Linked DNA regions of Homo sapiens: region 1 is linked to region 2. Evidence: fine-mapped expression QTL. A gene starts in region 2. The other region holds a variant in brackets. All regions are shown on one strand. Distances are between the middles of the regions.

Evidence for each region.
Region 1: its variant is fine-mapped to the expression of STX1B in tibial nerve (GTEx, PIP 0.94).

What each region holds. Positions count from the first base shown.
Region 1 is chr16:31,028,908-31,041,067 of GRCh38, reverse strand. It overlaps STX4 (syntaxin 4), which reads right to left and starts at 7,510. Exons shown (of 11, transcript NM_004604.5): 1 at 7,233-7,510; 2 at 6,954-7,055; 3 at 6,743-6,842; 4 at 6,532-6,606; 5 at 6,028-6,098; 6 at 3,034-3,142; 7 at 2,878-2,954; 8 at 2,421-2,558; 9 at 1,417-1,527; 10 at 1,250-1,345; 11 at 904-1,156. The coding sequence starts at 7,262. The coding sequence ends at 1,265. RefSeq lists enhancers at 6,652-7,162, 7,675-8,186. The variant T/C (reference allele first, on the strand shown) is at 7,706.
Region 2 is chr16:31,005,127-31,017,286 of GRCh38, reverse strand. It overlaps STX1B (syntaxin 1B), which reads left to right and starts at 6,649. Exons shown (of 10, transcript NM_052874.5): 1 at 6,649-6,920. The coding sequence starts at 6,891. RefSeq lists an enhancer at 6,112-6,613.

The DNA.
Region 1 (12,160 bases), 24 kb before region 2:
GTGCACTGATCCAGGATCACTGGCTCTCTATGCTGCTGCTGCTGCTGCTGCTGCTACTGATGATGATTGCTATTATTTTTGAGACAGGGTCTCGCTCTGTCACCCAGGATGGAGTGCAGTGGGATGACCATGGCTCACTGCAGCCTTAATCTCCTGGGCTCAAGCGATCCTCCCACCTCAGCCTCTGGAGTAGCTGGGACGACAGACACTTGCCATCACGCCTGGCTAATTTGTAAAATTATTATTCTCTAAAGAGAAGAGGTTGCCCCATCCTGCCTAGGCTGGTCTCAAGCTCCTGGGCTCAAGAGATCCTCCTGCCTGGGCCTCCCAAAGTGCTGGGATTACTGGTGCGAGCCACCACACCCTGCCTAAACGCTTATGTAAAAGATGATGCTTTTGTTGGTCACAGGGCCCGGCCTCCTGTGCTTTCTGACTGGCAACCTCTTCCCCAGCTTAACATCCCACTCCAATGTCATCCCTGCTGAAACCAGACCATCCCTATCCACTGCATCCAAAGTGACAGCCTCAATTAGGCATTTTTTCATGGTGCCTCTTCCTCTGGGCCACAAGAAGGCCCACTGATGCCACCCAAACCCCCATCTCACCTGCGTCCCAGCCTGGCCTGGTCAGCCTCATCATTTCCAAGACAGATACTCACAGTGGTCCTTTCCCGGGGACAGTACTGAGCCAGGAGCTAGATGCCGGTGTTACCCCTCCCTGCCCACCCATTCCTATGGGGGTGCAGAAAGGCAGAACCAGCCTGCTGTGGGCACAGCACCCCTGGCAGTTTGACCTGAGCAGCCAGGGCCAGACCTGGCCCTGGGGACGTCCAGGAGGTAAGGAGGTTGGATGCCCGGAAGCCTTGGGCCAGCCCTTCCAGGAACACACGTGCACAGGGCTTTCTATGCTCTTTTTTTGTTTTTTAATTTTTTACAAAACCGTGTGTCCCGGCCAATCAGGACAGTGCAGGCCTCCCCCAGGCATTGAGGCCTGAAGGAGGAGGCCATCATGAATGAGCAGCTGCCAACCCCAGAAGAACTGTCTGCCCTTCTGCATAGGGGCCAGTGTGAGGAAGGGGTCCGACTGGAGGCTCTGCCCTGCCCCCCAGGCTGCTGGGAGAGAAGGCCAGGCCCTGGGTTCCTGGTGCTCCTAGTGCCTGTAAGGAAAGGAGGGAGAACAGGGTCTGAGGGAGGAGGGAGGGCTGGGGCCAGGGCTGGGGCAGGCCAGGGGGCAGCCCACAACATCTCACCAACAATGTGCGACATTATCCAACCACTGTGACGCCAATGATGACTGCTAGGAGGACGACGGTGATGGACACACAGATGGCAATCAAGACTTTCTTCTGTGGGAGAGGAGGGGGTCAGGGAAGTCACACAGGGTGCCTGGGGCAGTGGCCGGGCCTGGGAGGCTCACCTTCCTCGCCTTCTTCTGGTTCTCCAGGGCCGTCTTGACGTGCTCCTGCCCACGTTCCACGTAGTCCGCTGAGCTCAGGATGTTCTTCTCAATCCGATTGATCATCTCCCCCTGCTCAGAGGATGGGGTGGTTCAGGGAGGTAAGGATGCCTTTGCCCACCCCACCCCAGATGACTGAAGAACATTCCTGGCAGGAAAAAAAAATTGCACTAACAAAGACAAGGGCAAGACTTGATCTGACAAAAGTTCAGACTCCTTGGGGATGGCTTCCAGGCCCCTTCTATCATGTAGTCCCTTGTCCCCTGCTCACTTATCCCATACAACCTCTATCTGCAGTGGTAGCTTGGAGCTAAGGGCCTCAAATGGCTCATACCTTTCACAGATGGTGAACTGTGCCTTCACAAATCTGTCTGAATTTACCCATTCTTCCAGGCCTATCTACAGCTGCTGCAAAGCCCTCCCTATCCCTGCCTCCTCCTGGCACCACCAGCCTCAGGTCTCAGTACTCCTACTGAATGAGATCTCTTTCCTGTAAGTCTCAGCTGCAAAAGGGCATTGGCTGTAGCATGACTGAGGCCAGCTCCTCCAGGACAGGGCTGGAAGCTCAACTCAACTCACAACCAGGGCCAGGGGAACGCCGCCCCCACCCCAGCCTTGTACAGATGTTAGGAGGCAGCCCCTCTAGGGCAACTCTGACTGGACCTCTGAGAGGTATAAGGGTGGATGCTGTTAGTGGAGGGGGAGTGAGGGCTGGGGCCAGACCTGGGCAGGCTCAAGTTTTGGAGAGGGGGCAGGGTGCTATGCAGAAGGGAGTGGGCATCTGTGTAGCAGCAGAGGCAGGTGCCATTCTCGGGGTACAGCTAAGGATAGGAATAAGCACCAATCTGGGGGCATGGCCAAACCTGGAAGACACAAAAGCCTCAGGGAGAGAATCTAAGGGTGGCGGGAGGCTGGCAGTTTGGACTGAGCCTGGTCTCACGTCTGGGGCTGCGCGGGGCACCCACCTGCATCTCCACTTCGGTAGCCAGAAAAGTGAATATGTCGTGCAGCTCACGAATACTGCGTTCAAGCTGCTGGATCTCACTGTGCCGGGCCGAGATCTCATTTAAGGCCTGTCGAGTCACCTGCGTGTCCTTCAGGATCTGGGGGGTGGACAGGAGTGGGGCAACTGTTCACAGGGAGACCGACAGCAGGTCAGAAACTCCTGTTGAGCTTCTGGGGAGCCCTCAGCCTGGAATCTGATGGGTGACTCCAGGCAGGCTAATTAATTCCCTTAGAGGCCTCAGGGTGCCCTTAATCAGAAAGGGCCACAGCAAGCGGGGTGCAGTGGCTTGCACCTATAGTCCCAGCTACTCGGGAGGCTGAGGCAGGAGGATCACCTGAGCCCAGGAGGTCGAGAAACGGACAGGACTCAGAGGGGATGGGAGGCACAGCAGAGAGGGGCTGGCTGTGGCCACTCACATTGGACACAAACACCTCGCTTTGCCCACTGTCCAGCATCTGCTCCAACTCCTCATCAGACACCATCCCAGCATTGGCTGTGAAGGAAAAGGCCAGGCTCAGGGTTGGGTTGGGATTACCTGCCCCTGCGGGCCAGGCTGGGCATGCACAACTCACTGATCTTCAGCTGCCTCCGAATCCGCTCCACGTTCTTCTCCCGGTATTCGGACTGCATTGAATTGCACTTGTTGATGAGCTCCACGAATTGCTGGGACAGGACCCCATGCTAAAGATGAAGAATATAGGCTGAGTGCCCCTGGGAGGATCCCTGCCCGGTCGGTGCCTCGGCAACCCCATAGTACAGTGAGCAAATAGCATGAGCTCTTATGCGGGATCTGCCACCTTAACCACCTTGTGATGACCTTGACAGGCTCCCCCATTTCTCTTAGACTAAAAGCCAAAGCCCTTATCAGGCCTATGTGGTCCTCCATGATCTTTTTTATTTATTTATTTATTTATTTATTTATTTATTTATTTATTATTTGTTTTTTGAGACAGAGTTTCACTCTTGTTGCCCAGGCTGGAGTGCAGTGGCACAATCTCGGCTCACTGCAACCTTGGCCTCCCGGGTTCAAGCAATTCTCTTGCCTCAGCCTCCCGAGTAGCTGGGACTACAGGCACGCGCCACCACGCACGGCTAATTTTTGTATTTTTAGTAGAGATGGGGTTTCACCATGTTGGCCAGGATGGTCTTGATCTCTTGACCTTGTGATCCACCTGCCTCGGCCTCCATTACAGGCGTGAGCCACTGCACCTGGCCTATTTTTATTTTTAATAGAGACAGGGTTGGCCGGGCACGGTGGCTCATGCCTGTGATCCCAGCACTTTGGGAGGCTGAGGCAGGTGGATCACCTGAGGTCAGGAGGTCAAGACCAGCCTGGCCAACGTGGTGAAACCCCATCTCTACTAAAAGTACAGAAATTAGCTTGGTGCAGTGGTGGGCGCCTGTAGTCCCAGCTACTTGGGAGGCTGAAGCAAGAGAATGGCTTGAACCCAGGAGGCGGAGGTTGCAGTGAGCAGAGATGGCACCACTGTACTCCAGCCTGGGCAACAGAGTGAGACCCTGTCTCAAAGGAAAAAAAAAAAAGGGGGGGGGGTCTCACTATATTGCCCAGGCTGGTCTCAAACTCCTGGGCTCAACCAATCCTCCCACCTCAGCCTCCAAAGTGCTGGGATTACAGGCGTGAGCCACGGTGCCTGGCTAGCCCTCTATGATCTCTCCTTCTCCCATGACCTCTCTGATCTTACTTCCTCTTACTGTTCCCTTCCTCTGCCCATCCACACTGGTCTCCTTACCCCTCCCTAGACAAAGCACACTCTCAGCTTAAGCCTTTGCATTCACTTTTCCTTCTACCTAGAATGCTCATTCCCAGCAAACACCTTTAAGTCTCTTGTTCAGATGTTACCTTCTGAATGAAGCTTCCTCCACCTGCTTTCAACTGCAACTCTACCTCCTCCAGCATGCTTAGTCCCTCTTCCCCTGCTCTTTTTTCCTTAATGCTTATTATGTTCTAAATAATTCACTTATTTATTATGGTGATTGTCTACACCAGAAGGGAAGTTCCATGAGGACAGGGATCACTGGTTCACTGCTGTATCCTAAACAGTTCCAAAAAGGTCTGGCACACAGTAGGCACCCAATATGTAACTGCTGAATGCTTGCTGAATGCCAACCTCGCTGCCTACACCACAGCTCCTACGCCTAGAGATGAACATGTTGCCTGGGCGAAACAGGTGCAACAGGCCCACATGGACCCTCAACCACTCATGCCAATCACCACCACAGGCTTCCCCAGAAACACTGGTTCTGGGGCATCTGCTCTGCCTTGCCCCTTCTTCTGAGGCCTTAAATATGCTCATTCCTTGGAGTTCCTTTTCCAGAGATACATCTGCTTTCCTGGTTCCAGCTTCACCCTTCCAAGATGCCCAAGCTGCTCCATCTTCAATCTGGGGTCCCTGCTGAGCCCTGGGCCCAACTACTCCAACCCTGACCTCCTGGTATCCTCCTCACTGGGGACCCAGAGAGGGCCAGTCAGATCACTGCAAATCTCCTTACTAAGATATCACCCCAGGGGCCGCGCGCGGTGGCTCATGCCTATAATCATAGCACTTTGCGAGGCCAAAGCAGGTGGATCAGTTGAGATCAGGAGTTCGAGACCAGCCTGGCCAACAAGGTGAAACCTCATTTCTACCAAAAATATAAAAAATTAGCCAGGTGTGGTGGTGCACACCTGTAATCCCAGCTACTCGTGAGGCTGAGGCAGGAGAATCGCTTGAAGGAGGTGGAGGTTGCAGTGAGCCAAGATTGTGCCACTGTACTCCAGCCTGAGGGACAGAGTGAGACTCCATCTCAAAAAAATAATAATAATTAAAAAAATAAGATATCACACCAGGGGAGTTCCTCTTCAGTGTTGCCCCAAGGAAGTTCCTCTTCCTGACTTCTTGAATTCCACCTGTGGGACTAAGGATGTCCCTGTCACATAGATAGGAAACCTGCCAGTCATTTATGACTTCTCACTCTCCTTCCCTGGGCAGCGCCGTTAGCCACCAGGTCCCACGTGAGTAATGTCTTTATCCCCTATTGAACCCTAACTCCTCATCTTGACTCCCAGAAAACATGTGTCCCAGCTGGGCATGGTGGCTCACGCCTGTAATTCAGCACTTTGGGAGGCCGAGGCAGGAGGGTCACCTGAGGTCAGGAGTTCGAAACCAGCCTGGCCAACATGGTGAAGCCCAGTCTCTACTAAAACTACAAAAATTAGCTGGGCATGGGGGTGTCCGCCTGTAATCCCAGCTATTCAGGAGGCTGAGGCAAAAAAAGAAAAGAAAACATGTGTCCCACAGCCAAGACTAGGTCTTGTCTGGGGTCACAGTAACTTCCTATTGAATGGAAGAAAATAAAGCAGGGTGTTATAACCGGACTGAGCATCAGGAGACCTGGCTTCCTGACCTTGAGCAAGTTCTTTCTCTCTCTGAGCTCAGTTTCCCCATTTGGAAAAGTCATCCAATTGGACTCCATGATCTCTGCAGGCCCTTCCTTCATACACCTGTCATCTAATACTTCATGAAACATTTGCTGAAATGTCCTCATTTCTGAGAAAAAAAACCCACCTGGGTTTTTCTCATTCTTGTGTTGACGGAGTTATAGTTCTCATCAGCTTCCTCCTTCTGGGGCTCTATGGCTGTGGGAAGACACAGGGGTATTGGGGGTACTTGTCTCCATAGGATTTTTAGGGAAATATAATTTATCATAAAATGACTAAGGCTGAGCCTCTAAGAGGAGAAAGTAAGTTTATTTTTCTTTGCATTACATCACTGAGTTCCCATAGGTATGCAGAGGCCACCTAACAAAACTCCATCTCCCTGCCCAAAGAATGCCCAGTGGGCAGCGATAACTGTGTAAGTAAATGGTTTCATTGTAAATAAAAGAACCTGAGAGGCGGACTTGTGCTGTGGAGAGTACAATGGCCTGGAGGCCAGGAGACAGATGCTAGACCCAGGCCTGCTGTGTGACCTGGATATATCACTGGCTTCTCTGGGCCACACACTCCCCAGATATACCAACAACAGGGCAGGATCAGAGGGAAGGATCTGTCTGAGGTCCCAGGAGCTCACCCTTCAGCTGCAGGCGGATCTCCCTCCCCAGCTGTTTGATCTCATCGCGCAGGTTCTGCAGCTCCTGCTTCATGCCTGAATAAGAGAAGGCCAAGACTCCCAAACAGCAGCCCCCACCTCAACAAACCACTCTGGCCACCACCTGCGTGGAACTACAACCCCCACAATCCCTGGGGCGGAGCATGCGCCCTGCAGCCGGGGTTTCACTCACTCTCCTCGGGAAGGGGCGTGGCCAGGATGGTGACCTGCTGTTTCTCCAACTCCTGGACTTTATTCCCCAGTTTGACAATAGTCTGCCGAATTGTCCGGACCTGGGGAGGGTGACCGAGAGGGCTGAAAGAGATATGGGGTACTCCAGACCACGCTACTCCTCGGGTCCTCCTACACCCTCGCGAATCCAGGCGGAGACCCCAGCCCCTTACCTTGTGGAAGAACTCCTCGTCCGGGCTCCCCAGCCGTGCCGTGCCCGGGTGCACCACCAGCGCGACCCGCTCCTTGTCCTCTTCGTCCGAGCTGTCATCCCCCTGCCAGGCCCGGAGTCATTGGCACCACCGTTTCGCTGCGGCTCTTACCCCGCAGGACCCACAGGCTTCCGGGACTTTCCTTCCTGGCCATCAGCCACCCCTCCCTATCCCGAAGACCAGAAGTCCTGCGTTCCAGTTCGTCCGCCCGTCCCCATCCCCGCTGCCCTGGCGTCTCACCTGTCTCAGCTCGTGGGTCCTGTCCCGCATGGCGGCCTGAGCTCTCCCTCCCCGGCGCCAGAGCCGGGAGGCCCTCAAATTTGGAATTCCCGTACCCCGCTCACACTCTGACACTCCCCTCCCTCCCCCTGCGGACCCCAACACCCCCACGAGCCGCCAGAGGCTCCGTCCCTTGCACCGCCCACAGTCAATGGGAAGGCGCCGACCCCGGGGACCCCCCAAGGTTCCACAGGTTGGAATTCCCTTTTCTTCCCCGCTCCAGCTCCCGCAGCCTCAGCCCCGCCCCTCCGTGATAAATTCGGGGCATGCGCACATGGTCGCGTCTCTTCCTTGCCCGAGGCTGGGAAGGTGGAGTCGGAAGTTGTTGCGCCCCGAGCGGAAGCGGAGATGCCTGGACGCGAGAACTTGCTACCGTCACCGGAACCGTTGCATCTTCCAACGGAAATCTGGTTGCCAAAAGGGGTAGGAATACG[T/C]CATTTGTACGTAATCCGAGACACCCGCATCTCACATCACCCCATGGTGCCCCCACCGCGTCACGTGACCAGCCCGGTCCCAAACTCGTGGACCGCAGAATGTGACCCTGTGACTGTCACGTGTCCCGGCTCTGTCACCGCCGTCTCTGGGACGCCGTTCTCATCACGACGTCCCCGGCACCCCAACGACCGAGCGACGCCCACACGGCCCCCGCGAGGTGGGGAGGGGCGCGCCGACCACCCCCAGAGGCCTTTCGAGGCAGTGGGTGGTAGGACCCTTGCTGACCTCGCCTTTATTGCTTTCGGGTCCAGGGCGTGGGCGGACTGACGACTTAGCATTTGGGGCTGTCAGCATCATGGGACCTTGAAAATCGGGAAATAATAGGATCCGAGTCGTCAGCGTCAGAAAATTGCAGGGTTGTGTGGGCAGGGAATCTGGGGGTGGGAAGTGACCTCAGCCAAGGCAGAAATCTCTTCTTCCGCATCCTTCTGGCGCAGCCTCTGACAGGTGGGCGGCCAGCCGGCGCCCTCCTTGAACACTGCAGCCCGGCTGCACTCACCACCTTGTGAGCCGTCAGACCATGTCAGGGCAGCTCAGGCTAAGAAAAGTGTTTGTATTGATCACGCTGCCTCCCTGCCACTCACACCCCCCAGCCCCTGCCTTGCATCTGAGGCCAGGTAATGACTTTGTTCTTAACTGAATCTGGGGAGTTCCTAGCCCAGTACCAAGAACATTACGGGCCCTCTATAAATACTTGTGGACAGAATTTCAGGCTTTCATGTATCTGAGGATAAAGCCCCTGGTTCCTTGGTCTTCTTTAGGCTTCAGGCTTTCTGACTGTGACACTTCTCTAATCCTGGCTATCTAGATATTCACTCATTTTTTATTTTTAAAAATTTTTACGAGATGCGGTCTCACTATGTTGTCCAAGCTGGTCTCTAACTCCTGGGCTTAAGCAATCCTTCTGCCTCAGCTTCCCAAAGTGCTGGGATTACAGGCATGCACCACCATGCACAGCAACATTCAGTCATTTAATGGATATTTTTTGGGCACATAGTATGGGCCAAACACTGTTCTAGGGCTGGAGATACATCAAGGACTAATAGACAAAAATTCCTGCACTCGTGGAACTTATATTCTCTAGAAGGAGTCCCCAAGGTCACTCAGCAAGTCTCAGCATAGCCGGGAATGAATAACAGGTCTCCTGGACCCCAGGGCTCTGTCCAGGAAGCTTCTGTGAAGGTACAAGCAAGGAAAGGAATGGACCCTTTCTGCTATGCCCTGGTCAGGAAACCTAGATTCCTGGGACTGAGTTGCTATGGACTTCTGGAAATCGCTTCCTGTCTCTAAGTGTGGATCTCCCTCTGCACAGTGGGTAACTGTAGGGGGATGGGGAGATCATCTTTATGGGTATCGGCTGCTCTAAACTTCAGTGATGATGAGGTTGGAAACTGTCAAGTGCTGTGTGATTCTATGTGAGGAGTTTTGGCTCTTCTCCTCTTCCTGTTAAAACCCAGCTCAGGCAGGGTGTGGTGGCTCATGCCTGTAATCCCAGCACTTTGGGAGGCTGAGGCAGGCAGATCACCTGAGGCCAGGAGTTGGAGACCAGCCTGGCCAACATGGCGAAACCCTGTCTCTACAAACATACAAAAATTAGCCAGGCATGATGGCAGGTGCCTGTAATCCCAGCTACTTGGGAGGCTGAGACAGGAGGATTGCTTGAACATGGGAGGTGGAGGTTACAGTGAGCTGAGATCACGCCATTGCACTCCAGCCTAGGTGACAGAGTAAGACTCTGTCTCAAAAACAAAACAAAACAAAAAAAAAAAACCCAGCTAGTAGGAGAGTGGTGCCCTGATGAACCCACAGAGGGAATGCAGGGTTTTTCCGGAGGCCAAGCCCTGCCCAGTGGTGTCCCCTGGAGATGATAAGGAAAGATTCTCTGCTCCTGGGTCTTTCATGTCAGCCTCTGCCTCTTCAGTCACTGCTGCTTGCCTCCTGCATCTTTTGTCCCCTGCCACCCGACCCCCTTCCCCCTCCTACTCTGTGTCTCTGAGTGGCACACGGTGGAAGGGCTCTTGGACCCCTGACTCATAGTCCTGCATGGGATCTTAAATAATGCATTACTTCTCTCTGGGACTCAATTTCCCCATTTGGCGGCTTGGTCCTATAATTTCTGCCTTGCCTAAGGTAGGACTTGAACACTATCAAGTGAGGTTAGGAAGGATGTGGAAGGGGCTGGAAAACTGTTGAGGGTACCCTCCCCTCTGGGCTTTTTTTTTTTTTTTTTTTTCTTCTCTTTGAGGTCAGGTCTGGTTCTGTCATCCAGGCTGGAGTGCAGTGGTGTGCTCTCAGGTTCAGTCAATCCTCCTGCCTCAGCCTCCCAAGTAGCTGGTACTAAGGCACGCACCACCATGCCTGGCTAATTTTTGTATATTTTTTGGTAGAGACTGGGTTTCGCCATGTTGCCCAGGCTGTTCTCAAACCCCTGGGCTCAAGTGATCCACCCACCTTGGCCTCCCAAAGTGCTGGGATTACAGGTGTGAGCCACTGTGCCCAGCCTCTCTGAGCTTTTAATACTGTGGGTTCCAGCGTCTTCTGGGCCCCCTGGTCCCATCTTCCTCTTTGTTTCTCAGCGTCTTGATGGCATGCCATCTTGGTCCACTAAACTTCTCAGGATTATAATATTATTTCACTTGTGGTCTCTGGGTGAGATCGCAGGGCTTTGGAATGGTGACTTAAGGTCACAGGAAGCTGGACTCCAAGCCTTGTGGTGGAATATGGAGAGGAAAGAGGCCATTTAGAGAGATTGGCGCTGGGGGTGGAGCTCTCCAGAGCTGAGCCCTTTGTTCCTCTCAGGCCCTCTGAGCAGCCTTGACGGGGATATTAACTATATTAGGCTAGGTGCAGTGGCTCATGCCTGTGATCCCAGCACTTTAGGAGGCCAAGGGTGTATCACTTGAAGCCAGGAGTTCGAGAGCAGCCTGGGCAACATAGCGTCTGTCTCTACAAAAAAAATCTTAATTACCCAGGTGTGCTGGCGCTCTCCTGTAGTCCCAGCTACTCAGGAGGCTGAGGCAGGAGGATCACTTGAGTCCCTGAGGTCAAGGGTACAGTCAGCAGTGATCTTGCCACTGCACTCCAGCCCGGGTGACAGAGTGAGATCCTGTATAAAAAAAAAAAAAAAAAAAAGTAGGGTGGGTGCAGTGGTTCACGCCTGTAATCCTAGCACTTTGGGAGGCTGAGGCAGGAGAATCCTTTGAGCCCAGGACTTGAGACCAGCCTGGGCAACATGCCAAGACCTTATCTCTGTTTTTGTTGTTGTTGTTTGTTTGTTTGTTTGTTTTGAGACGTAGTCTCGCTCTGTCTCCCAGACTGGAGTGCAGTGGCACGATCTCAGCTCACTGCAGCATCCGCCTCCTGAGTTCAAACAATTCTGCCTCAGCCTCCCAAGTAGCTGAGATTACAGGTGCACACCACCGCGCCCAGCTCATTTTTGTATTTTTAGCAGAGATGGGGTTTCACCATATTGGCCAGGCTGGTCTCGAACTCCTGACCTCGTGATCCTCCCGCCTCGTGATCTGCCTGCCTCGGCCTCCCGAAGTGCTGGGGTTACAGGCATGAGCCACTGTGCCCAGCCTAAGACCTCATCTCTAATTAGATTTTTAAAAAATAATTAAAAATAAATAAATAGAAGTAAAAATAAAGTTTAAAAAAGTGTATTGGGTCTTGGGTGTGTGGGTGGTGGGCGTGTATATTCGCTCCAGACTGTGCAGCTGTTGGGGGGTGGGGTGTGTTTCTTAACTTCTACACTATGATCCAAGGAAAATACCAGCTGGGGTGGCTTCCCGTGTTCCACCCACCCTTGGGGGCTTGCTGTCACCTATTGCTTTGGACTGTCTTGGGGGAGGAGTGGGTGGACTGCCGGCCCCACTAAGCCTTCTCCCGCCCCTGTCACAGGTCCTCTCCCACACCTGCTAGGTTGGAGCCAACTACTGGAGAGGTTGTTGATCCTGTCTTGCTCTACCCAGTCCTGAGGCTTGGCAATTTGTCTTGTCCCCTCTACCTGTGGGTCCAGACCTATCCACATGGGAGCCAGATGACCTGGGTTGGAATCCCAGCCCATTCACCCACTGTAATAACTCTAGGAGGCAAGTTATATAACCTTTCTATACCTCAGTTCTCATTTTTTTTTGTTTTTGTTTTTGTTTTTGTTTTTTTGGTTGTTGTTGTTTTTTGAGACAGAGTCTCTCCAGGTCACCAGGCTAGAATGCAGTGGTGTGATTTTGGCTCACCGCAGCCTCCACATCCTGGGTTCAGGTGATTCTCCTGCCTCAGCTTCCCGAGTAGCTGGGATTACAGGTGCCCACCACCAAGCCGGCTAATTTTATATTTTTAGTAGAAATGGGGCTTCTCCATGTTGGTCAGGCTGGTCTCAAACTCCCGACCTCAGG
Region 2 (12,160 bases):
GATCACGAGGTCAGGAGCTCGAGACCACGGTGAAACCCCGTCTCTACTAAAAATACAAAAAAAATTAGCCGGGCGCGGTGACGGGCGCCTGTAGTCCCAGCTACTCAGGAGGCTGAGGCAGGAGAATGGCGTGAACCCGGGAGGCGGAGCTTGCAGTGAGCCAAGATCGCGCCACTGCACTCCAGCCTGGGCGACAGAGCAAGACTCCGTCTCAAAAAAAAAAAAAAAAAAAATTAGCCAGGCATGGTGGCGCATGCCTGTAATAATCCCAGCTATTGGGGAGGCTGAGGCAAGAGAATCGCTTGAACCCAGGAGGCGGAGATTGCAGTGAGCCGAGATTGCGACATTGCACTCCAGCCTGGGCAACAGGAGCGAAACTCTGTCTCAAAAAATAAAATAAAATAAAATAAAATAAATAAAATAAGATAAAATAAATAATAAAAATTAGCCAGGCATGGTGGTGCGTTCCTGTAATCCCAGCTACTCAGGAGGCTGAGGCAGGAGAATCGCTTGAACCTGGGAGGCAGAGGTTGCAGTCAGCCAAGATCGTGCCACTGCACTCCAGCCTGGGCGACAGAGCCAGACTCCATCTCAAAAAAAAGAAAAAAAAAATTAGCCAGGCGTGGTGGTGCGTGCCTGTAATCCCAGCTACTGGGGAGGCTGAGGCAAGAGAATCACTTGAACCCAGGAGGTGGAGTTGCAGTGAACCAAGATGGCGCCACTGCACTCCAGCCTGGGTGATGGAGTGAGACGCTGTCTTGAAAAAAAAAAAAATAGGCTTTTGAGACAGAAACTACCACCCCATCTTGAAAATCAGTTATTCTTTTTTGCTTTTATTTTTCCCCTCCTTTCCTTTTATGCTGGGTTTTTAATAATGGTTAACTAGTGCTTGGCATAAAGAACTCCAGGAAGTGGCCTTGAAAAACTAAGCAGGGAATCAAGGTTGCAGCATGTCCAGCCCTGGGAAGAATGCTGAGTGCCTCCTGTATTCCTGTTGCACCCGAACCAGTGCCAGCCAGACCACCAGATGGCCCACTGCTCAAGACTGTCAATGAGACCAGACACACTGACCCACCTCGAGTCAACCTGTGCATAGCTTCCATATATCCCCTCTCATAACCACCCCCTCTCATAACCAACCCCCACCGGCTGGGCGCGGTGGTTCATGCCTGTAATCCAGCACTTTGAGAGGCCGAAGTGGGGGGCTGCTGGTTGTAGGGGCATCACTTGAGCTCAGGAGTTTCAGGCCAGCCTAGGGAACATAGCAAGACCCCATCTCTACAAAAAAAATCAAAAAGTGAGCCAGGTTGGTGGCACGTGCCTGTAGTTCCAGCTATTTCAGAGGCTGACATGGGAGGATCGCTTGAGCCTGGGAGATCAAGGCTGCAGTGAACTATAACTGTGCCACTGTACTCCAGCCTGGATAACAGAGTGAGAGCTTGTCTCAAAAAAACCCAGCCAGCCTGAAAATTTTGAGATGAGACTTTCAGACATTAGTCTGCCATCTCCTCGGTTTGCTGGCTCTCCGAATAAACCTGCTTTCCTCCTACCAACTCTTTTTTTTTTTTTTTTTTTTGAGACAGAGTCTCATTCTGTCGCCCAGTCTGGAGTGCAGTGGCATGATCTCGGCTCACTGCAACCTCCACCTCCCGGATTCAAGCGATTCTCTTGCCTCAGCACCCCCGAGTAGCTGGAATTACAGACGTGAGCCACCATGCCCATCTAATTTTTGTATTTTTAGTAGAGACGGTTTCGCCATGTTGGCCAGGCTGGTCTTGAACTCCTGACCTCAGGTGATCCACCCATCCTGGCTTCCTAAAGTGCTGGGATTACAGGCATGAGCCACCGTGCTCAGCCCCCAACTCTCGTCTCGTGTTTAGCATTTGGGCAGTGAGCAGCTGAGCCTGGATTTGGCTATGCTTTCCCTCTAGCGTCAGGAGGGCCAAGAAAGACACCGTAGTTGAACTTTGATAGAAGAGCAGGAGGTGGGCTTGGGGATGTTAGAGGGAAGGGAGTTCCAGGGGACAAGAATGACACGAGGAAAGGCATGGAGATATAAAAATGCAGGGAATAACGGGATAGGAGTAGAAGGTGCGTGGGAATAGGTGGCATGCCCTAAAGTGGAAAGCCAGGTTAGGAAATTGGGGCTTTACCCCATAAGCAATGGGAAACCAGGGAAATTTTCTGATCAGGGGCTGGCCTGGTTATATCAATGCTTTAAAAATTTGGCCAGGCACAGTGGCTCACACCTGTAATCCCAGCACTTTTGGGAGGCCAAGGCAGGTGGATTGCTTGAGGTCAGGAGTTCAAGACCAGCGTGGGCAACATGGTGAAACCCTGTCTCTACAAAAAATACAAAAAAATTAGATGGGTGAGATGGCACATGCCTGTGGTCCCAGCTACTTGGGAGGCTGAAGTGGGAGGATCGCTTGAACCTGGGAGGTGGAGGTTGCAGTGAGTGGAGATTGTGCCACTGCACTCCAGCCTGGGTGACAGAGCAAGGCGCCATCTCAAAAAAAAAAAAAAAAAAAAAAGGGTGGGGGGCACTGGGTAGGAGACTGCATAGGAAGTTCCTTCATGATTCAGATGACTCACTTTGGGTAGCCCATAAGTGGTCATGAATGTAATGAGCTTGAAATCACTGATCAGTGAGAGGAATTGCCATATGTGTGTGCCTGTGTCCATCTTTAGAGCTGCAGACAGATTTGAGTGGTGCGCCATTCACTCATTCATTCCTATAACACATAATTACTGAGCGCCTACCATGTGCCAGGTGCCGTGGAGCCACTGGAGAACCAGCAGTGAACACACAACAGACAAAACTCCCTGCCTTCACAGTTTGCTTTGTTCTTTATGCCTGGGTAAAACGGGTGCAGGAATATGCCATTTATTCATTCTGATTTTTTTGTTTGTTTGTTTTTGAGACAGAGTCTTGCTCTGTCTCCCAGGCTGGAGTGCAGTGGCACGATCTTGGCTCACTCCAACCTCCGCCTCCCAGGTTCAACCATACTTGTTGCCTCAGCCCCCAGAGTAGCTGGGATTACAGGCACATGCTACCACACCTGGCTAATTTTTATATTTTTATTTTTTATTTTTATGTATTTATTTATGTATTTTTGAGATGGAGTTTCGCTCTTATTGCCCAGGCTGGAGTGTAATGGCATGATCTCGGCTTACTGCAACCTCCGCCTCCCAGGTTCAAGCAATTCTCCTGCCTCAGCCTCCCTAGTGCCTGGGATTACAGGCATGTGCCACTACGCCTGGCTAATTTCATATATTTAGTAGAGACAGGGTTTCTCCACGTTGGTCAGGCTGGTCTCGAACTCCCCACCTCAGGTGATCCACCTGCCTCAGCCTCCCAAAGTGCTAGGATTACAGGCATGAGCCACTGCGCCCGGCAGGTCACATTTGTTTTGGGGGCAATCACATTAAGGACTGGGGAGGAAGACATATGTAAAGGAAAGGGGCTTTGTTCAAGTGGGAAGACCAGAGAGAGAAGGCTGTGCTGACGGCCCAGGTGAAAGACAGTGAGGGCCTAGACTGACCTGAGGTGGTGGGGACAGGAGAGGGCCTAGAGACGGCTCTGGGTGTCACAGTTGAGAGAGGAGCTATAAGAGCATGCTTTTACAAGAATGGGTTGTGAGCCAGGTGCAGTGGTGTGCCCCTGTAGTCCCAGCCACTCAGGAGGATGAGGTAGGAAGACTGAGCCCAGGAGTTTGAGTCCAGGCTGGGCAACAGAGTAAGACCCCATCTCTTAAAAAAGAAGAAGAAGAAGAAGGAGAAGGAGAAGGAAAAAAGAAAGAAGAAAGAGAAGGAAGAAGAAGAAGAGGAAGAGGAAGAAGAGGAAGAGGAAGAAGAGGAAGAGGAAGAAGAGGAAGAGGAAGAAGAAGAAGAAAAGAAGAAGAAGAAGAAGAAGAAGAAGAAGAAGAAGAAAGAAGAGGAAGAGGAAGAGGAAGAGGAAGAGGAAGAAGAAGAAGAAGAAGAAGAAGAAGAAGAAGAAGAAGAAGAAGAAGAAGAAGAAGAAGAAAGAAGAAAAGAAGAATGGGCTTTGCAATCAAAAGATACAAACAAGGTCAGACACAGTGGCTTATGCCTATAATACCAGCACTTGGGAAGCCGAGGTGAGAGCCCAGGAGGCTAGGACCAATCTCGTCTCTGCAAAAAAAAGAAAAAAAGAAAGTTAAATTAGGGCCAGGCACAGTGGCTCACACCTGCAGTCCCAGCACTTTGGGAAGCCAAGGCGGGTGGATCATTTGAGGTCAGGAGTTCCAGACCAGCCTGGCCAACATGGCGAAACCCTGTCTCTACTAAAAATATAAAAATTAGCCAGGCATGGTGGCAGGCACCTGTAATCACAGCTACTTGGGAGGTTGAGGCAGGAGAATCACTTGAACCCAGGAGGCGGAGATTGCAGTGAGCCAAGATCGCGCCATTGCACTCCAGCCTGGGTGACAGAGCGAGACTCTCTCTCAAAAAAAGAAAGAAAGAAAGAAAGAAAATTAGCTGGACACAGTGGTGTACACCTGTAGTCCCAGCTACTCAGGAGGCTGAGATGGGAGGATTGCTTGAGCCCAGGAGGTCAAGGCTGCTGTGAGGTGTGATTGCACCACTGCACTCCAGCCTGGGGAACAGAGTGAGACCCTGTCTCTGGAAAAAAAAAAAAAAAAGCAAACAAGACCCCAGCCCTGCCCTTTATTAACCTTGTGAACTTGGATATGTTATGTGACCATGCAAAGCCTCAGTGTCCTTGTCTATACACTTGGGATCTTAGCAGTGGCTACTGTGAGGTTGGGAGGTTTCTGGGAGCTACCAGCATAGTGAATGCAACACGTTGGATGCCCAGAACGTGCTGGCATTATAATGGCGGGGAGGCAAGGACAGCTTTCTGTGCTTTGAGTGGCTGGGTGGATGGAGATGACGCCATCTCTGAGGGAGAACACAGGAAGGAACACTTTGGGGACAGCCACCTCCTTGAGGTCCCCACGTCAGCGCTAGCCATGCCCACTGTAGTCATGGATCTACTCATGGCTCTGGTGGCATCTTCAATCTCTGTCTTCTTGGTGCCCAGCTCAGAGCTTAGGCATATAGTAGGGGCTGTCTTACAGGGGGAGGATCTGGCTCGCAGGTACAGATGTGGGCACTGCAGACACGGAGGTGCAGAAAGATGCAGGTAAAGAAGGAAGAGAATGCCAGGCATGGTGGCCCAGGCCTGTAATCTCAGCACTTTGGGAGGCTGAGGCAGGAGGATCGCTTGACCCTAGGAGTTCAAAACCAGCCTGGACAACATAGTGAGACCCTGTCTCTACAAAAAATAAAATTAGCCAGGTGTGGTGGCGCGTGCCTGTAGTCCCAGCTACTCAGGAGGCTGAGGTGGGAGGATCACTTGAGCCTGGGACGTTGAGGCTGCAGTGAGCCGAGATTGCACCACTGTACTCTAGCCTGGGCAACAGAATGAGACCCTAACTCAAAAAAAAAAAAAAAGAGAGAATGGACGGAGCCCAGGGAACCCTGAGGTTGAAGGGCTGTGGGAAAAAAGGTAAGGACCTGGAAAGAGGCTGGGAGACAACACTCACAGATCAGGTTGGGGGGTAGGTGGGCGGAGCACCACAGACAGGAGGGTTTCAGGAAGAGGGGCTCATCAGGGTCACATGCTGCTGAGAGGTCAGGGATGGTAAGGCCCGACTGGCGGTGTGGGATGAGGGTTTATCAGACACAGATTTGGCACCAAGGAGGTCACTGGGTACCTGGCAAGAGAATGCCGGGTGCGGTGGCCCAGGCATGGAATCCCAGCACTTTGGGAGGCTGAGGCAGGAGGATCGATTGAGAGTCAAGACCTGTCCCATTGGGGACCGGCGCCCCATTGCAGGGGGTGGGAGGAGCTGGTGTGGTGTAAGGATGGGGAGAGGAGAGGTGGGCATCAGAACAGGAGGTCACTCAGACCCTCAGGGGCACCTGATTTCCCCTCCCACTAAGGACAAATTTCATGTTCAACAGTCAGAGCCATCTGCAGATGGGCCAAGAGGTCCTGGGAGGTAGTGAGCACCCTGTCCCTGGAGGCAGACAAGCAGAGCTCCGAGACCCACCGCGGCGGGAGAGGCCCAGGCTGTGCAACACAAGCCCCGTGTCCTTCTCAGCAAGCACCTGGCTGGTTCCCTGCATCGTAAAAACCACACAGAGGGTCGGTCTTTCTATTTATAGTGTCCAAAGAGCCTCCTGCAAGAACACACATGGGCTCGCACCCAGAGGTGGTCGGCGCGCAGCCTCACGCAGACACCAGACACAAAACACAGCCGCGATCTGTGTCTCCTGGAAAGGGATCCACATCCTGGCTCCCAGGTTATTCCCTGAATTCATTCCGTCACCCCCTCTTTCCGCCGGGCCACCCCACCCCCCGGGCCACCCTAGCATCTCCGCTTGGCTCTCCGCATCTCTCCCTGCTCCTCGGGCTCTGCCCACCCCCACCCGCCTCCAGGCCTCTCCCGCCCCCTCCTCGGGTGTCCCCCAAGCCCGTGACTACAACCCCCAGGCGCCCCCGGCCCGGGTGCTGCGCATGCCCCCTGCTCCTTGCGCGCTCCCGCTCCCCCCGCCCTCGCTTCCTCCTCACCTCCCTCCGCCCCCCTCCCCCGCGCTCGGCTCCCGCATCCCTCCATCCTACCCTGTGCCGCAGCCGCATCGCCACCGCAGCCCGGCAGAGCCGAGCCCGGCCCAGGCCCCTGCCCCTGCCCGGCCCTCGGCCAGTCGCCCCCGGCCCCGCCCCCGCCCGCAGGCCCCCCGCAGCGGCCGCGGCGCCCCCCGGCGCCCCCAGACCCCGGCCTCCGGCACAGAGGCGGGAGACCCGGAGCAGCAGCAGAGGCAGGAGGACTAGGAGGAGGAGGAGGAGCCGTCGCAGGATGAAGGATCGGACTCAAGAGCTGCGGAGTGTGAGCTTGGGGGTGGGGAGAATGGGGGGGCGGGACCCCAATATTGGGGGAGCGCGTGGGGATGGAGTGGGGGAGGTGCTGGGACGTGGGGGCGAAGGATGAGATCGGAGGTTGGTAGCCGGAGCACCCCAGTATCTTCAGGCGCCTGATGTCTCTCCAGTGAACCTGCATTTTGGGGACAGTGCCTGGAAGGGGTTGGAGGCCATGAAGACACAAGGGGGCAGGAGAGGTCTCAGGGGCCTCGAACACCCCGCATTCCCAGGAGGGCCCCGGGGTCTGGTCTGGGGATGGGAGAGAGTGGATATCAGGAGAAACCGGAGGAGACTGTCATCCCCTGGGCAGGTTTGCCAAAGAGAAGCATGGGGGCGGTGACTGGGCCAGGCTGAGAGTCTAGCAGGACCCAGATTCAGGGGATGCTACGGGGAAGGACACAGGTTGGGACTGAGATGCCAGCACCTGGCAGTGAATGAAGTGTGTGTGTGTGTGCACACGCGTGTGTCACTCCCTATAGGGAGGGGGCATCTCTCCGAGACAGGGAGGGAAGAGGTGGCCTCCGGAGAGAGCCAGAGGGCCAGGGCCTGAGACAGGGTGACCCAGAGGTGGGAGATGGGGATGCAGAGGAGAGGGCCATGGAACACGGGCCGTGCTCTGCTTGGGGGAACTGGGGCACCCCGGGCAGTCAAGGGCTGATGCAGGCCCCAGGTCTGCAGGCCTGAAGAGGCCCGGCTCCAAGAGTCTGGCCAGGCAGTCCCTGGTTTTGGGGGGACAGGGGAAGGACTGCAGTGGAGGCTGCTACCTGGAGGAACTGGGGAGTGGGGTTCGATGAGAATGGTTTCAGGGGCAGGGAGGACGCTGGGGTATTTGGAGAAATGACCTGGGGCCCGAGGAGGCAGCACTGACAGTCCGCACTGTGCTGGGCTGGTGGTGTTATGTTAATAAGGGTACCGGCCCCGGCTGAGCTGCCCAATGCACTGAGCCTTTACAGGGAACTGGTGGGTTGTTACCCCAGGGGTTATTACCCCACTTGACAGATGAGGAAACTGAGATTCAGGCGTGGGAAGGGACTTGTCCAAGGTCACCAAGCAAGTGGGTGGGGGGCAGACTGCAATCTGGGTTTCCTGTCTGCTAGGTTGACACAGGTCTCTGCTTTTCTGGCCTTTGAAACAGAAGTTTCAGCACTGGGGGTGAAGAGCTGTCCCCTGGATTTGGGGGTGGGGACCCAGGTTACAGACAGACGAGAAGAAGGTGTTTGGAGGCAAGTGACCGCTGTCTCTGGGGACAGACAGGTTGCCAAATGGGAAGCAAGGAGGAGCTGGTGGCTGAGGGAGGGAATTTTAAAGGTTTCTTTATTACATTTTTACTGAATATACACTCAGGCATGAGGAAAGTGACAGTAATAATAAACATTGTTTGAAGTGTTTTATGCATATTCACTCATTTTGATCCTCACAGCAATCCTATGAGACTGGTTATCTCATTTCATAGATATATAAATATCTTTTTAGATATATAGATATATGTTATCTCATTTTATAGATAAGGACACTAAGCTCAGAGAGGTTAAGTAATTAGACCAAAGTCACACAGCTGGTAAAGGCAGGATTCAAACCCAGGCAGGCCGGCTTCAGCATCGGTGCTGTCAATTCCCCTCCTCAGTTTGCAGAGCAGGCTTTCATCCGTGATGTCATTAGAGCCCCACTGACCTCCTGGCAAGTGGACGGGGAGGCTCTTTCATTTTAGAGTTGGGGAAACTGAGGCCCAGAGTGGTTGAATAACTTTCCAAAGGTCACACAGCTAGCAGGTGAGGGATCCGGACTTGAACCCAGTTCCCCTGCTACCAGGACTATTCCATGACTCCAAAACCCAGGGAAATGGAAGTGGGTTGGGATCAGGTGGTGTGGAATTGGGGTACAATTCGAGAAAGAGGGAGGGAAAAGGCTAAGCGGGGTAAGGGGGAGGCAGGGGAGGGGGAGGCCTCATGAATGAGTCAGGGGCCCCTGCTCAGAGGTAAGGAATCCTGTTGGCTGTGGCTGCCGGAGGTGGTGTGGAAGGGTGAAGGGGCTGAGTGGATGTGGTGGCTTTGGTATTAGTCACAGCTCAGGGAAACTGGAGATTCAAGAGGGGGCGGGCGGGGTGGGAAAAGCTGACAGATTCAGGTAGCGTAAGGGTCTCCCTGCTACAGTTGAAAGCAAGGAGCCTGGGATGCAGGAGACACCTGGCAGGGTGTGGGGGACCTGGAAACGGGGTCTCTGAGACACTGGGAGGGATGAGGCAGGGGCGGTGGTGGGAGGGGACATTAGCCCAGGGGACTGATTGTCTTTCCAACAGTACCTTGGCATTCCCAAGGGGTTCTCAAGTCCGTTTGTCACACAGTGGTTTCGGGAGCCAGACTGTCTGGGTTCAAATTCTAATTTTGCTACTTCCTGTGAGACCTTGGGCAAGTTGCTTAACCTCTCTGGTCCTCAATTTCTTCGCGTATGAGTTGGGAGAAGTAAGAGTGCCTGTTTCACAGGGTTGTCCTGAGGACTGGAAGTAGTTAATATGCATCAGGTGCCTAGGAGGGGGCCTGGCGCCCAGCAGTGCTGTGTGTCTGTTACCCAGCAGATGGCTTGTTTATTTCTCTTCAACACCACACAAGCCCCCTGCGATGGGCAGGACATGGCCCCTATTTTATTTTGGAGTACATTGAGGGCCAGAGGGGGTAAAAAAAACCTGACTTGTCCAAGGTCAGATAGCTTTTAATGGTTGAGGTGGGCTTGAACCAGGGTTTTCTGCGTCCAGTTTACCAGGCAACCTTGGTTGGTGCTAGGCTGGTTGTGGAGGCTGTGAAAAGGAGTTAATCAGCTAAATAGGTGTCCCAGGGTCTAAGGAGTGAAGCCAGAGTGGGGCTCCAGAGGAAAGAGCAGAGTGAGTGAGGTGGAGAGGAAGGTGGGTTATGGGAGAAGACAGGAGGGGCACAGGGAGGGCTGAGGTCTGAGACGCAGCTGTGGAGTCGGGTGGGAGAAGTGCGGAGACACCCTGGGAGGAAGGTGGGGCCTGCACTGCAGGAGCCTGAATCTGAGGCTGGACAGGATGAAGGCTGCTGAGGGACCGCCCCGTGCCCCAAAGGCCCTCAGGTATGAGGCAGGCACAGTAGGTGCTTTAGAAACGCAGCCCTGAAATCACAGGGTGCAGAGACCAACGAACCCTGGGTGATGGATCCATATCCTCCAGCTGCTCTGGGCTGCCTTTATTTATATTTAAAAAAATGTTTTTAGAGACATGGTCTTCCTCTGTCACCTAGGCTGGAGTGCAGCGGTGCAATCACAGCTCACTGCAGCCTTGACCTCCTGGTCTCCAGGGATCCTCCTGCCACAGCCTCTCGAGTAGCTGGGATTACAGATGCGCACCACCATGCCTGGCTAATTCTTTTTGCTTTTGTAGAGATGGGGTCTATGTTGACCAGACTGGTCTTGAACTCCTGGCCTCAAATGATCCTCCCGCCACGCCCTCCCAAAGTGCTGGTATTCCAGGCATGAGCCACCGCGCTCGGCTGGCACTGGGCTTCTTTCTGCTATCCAAACACACAAGTTTACCCCTGTCCAAGGACCTTCGCGCATGCTGTTCCCTCTGCCCAGCATGCTGTTCCCTCTGCCCTGAATTCTGTTTCCCCAGCACTGTGGCACAGTTGGCTCCTTCAGGACCTAGCTCAGATGTCACCTCCCCAGAAAAGCCCTGCTAACTGTCCTGTAGAAATCCTTCCACAATCCCCCCCAATTCCCATGTCTCTCAATTCCATCTTTCTGCTTATCTCCCTCCTGCTATTCAGCACAATCTGAAATGGTCTTGTTCACCTCCCATTGTCTGCCTCCCCCACTGGAATGCCAGCTCCCTGGAGGCAGGCCCTCCTCGCCTGTCTTCTTCACCACCACATCGCCAGCAGCACCCAGAAGAGTACCTGGCACAAATCAGACACATCCGTTAGATGAATGAATGACTCCATGAAGCAGAGGGAGGATGAGAAAGGGGCAGGGGGTAAGGCAGGAAAGATGGAGGAGAGAGGTCAGGGTGAGAGGGCCAGGCTGCTCAGGGGGAGGGAGCAAGGAGAGGCCCCAGCCAGGGAGACAGATGGACTGAAGCAGAGGGTGGGGGAAAGGGCGCAGGGGGAGGCTGCTGCCTCCGATCAAACGATGATGCTTGCACCCCTGAGGAGCATGGGAAGCCCGTGTGTGTCAGTGCTGGGGCACGCATATGTTTACACACACACACGTACACACACGCACACTCTCTCTGACTTTTCTGTCACCCAATTCCAGTCTCTTGCCGCCTCTGTGTTTTTGTCACCGTCTCACCATCTGTCTCTCTGGTCACTGACTTGCTGGCTCTCACTGTCACTCTCCTCCTTCCGCTTCTGTATCTGTCCTTGCCGTCGCTCCACATCGACATACACACAAGGCCCGTGGTGGCTCTGGTGTGGAAGACCTGGACTTAGGGGGCCCCTGAGGAGGTCAGGCTGCAGCTGGAGGCTTGGATCTGATGTGCGCAGTCCCCAGGTGCTTCTGGAAGGGGCTCAGGGGCACTGCACTCTCTCATTCAATCCCTCTCAAGTGCTCAAGGAGCTGTGCGCTGTAGAGCAGAGTGCCTGAGTTTGAGTCATCCCATCAGCTGTGTGATCTTGGGCAAGTTACCCAATCTCTCTGCGCCTCCACCTCCTCATCTGTCCAGTGAGAATAAGAATATGACCTCATGGAGTGGTCGTGAGGATTAAACAAGAGATGCAGGCTGGGTGCAGTGGCTCACACCTGTCATCCCAGCGCTTTGGGAGGCCAAGGAGAGAGGATCTCTTGAGCCCAGGAGTTCGAGACCAGCCTGGGCAATATAGTGAGATCCCATCTCTCAAAAAAAAAAAAAAAAAAAGGAAAAAGAAAAAAAAAGAAATGCAAAGCACTTGTAATAGGACCCAACTCGTGGTAATCAGCACATATATGTTACATCCTCGATTTGCACATGAGGCAACTGAGGCTTGAATCGTTCACCTGTAACCTGAGGCCACCATAAAGTAGACTGGGGCACATTTGATCATCTTTTCCTAGGTAGTCTGGTTTGCCCACAGCCTGCTTTCTTTTTGGCTGGCCTAACTTCTTCCAGAAATGGATGCTGTACTCATTACTAAATATGCATCACTCAGAGCACGGAGGGCCCTTCAGAGCAGGGTGGGCACTTGCACCAGTCTGCTCATTTCAGTGATGAGGGAACTGGGG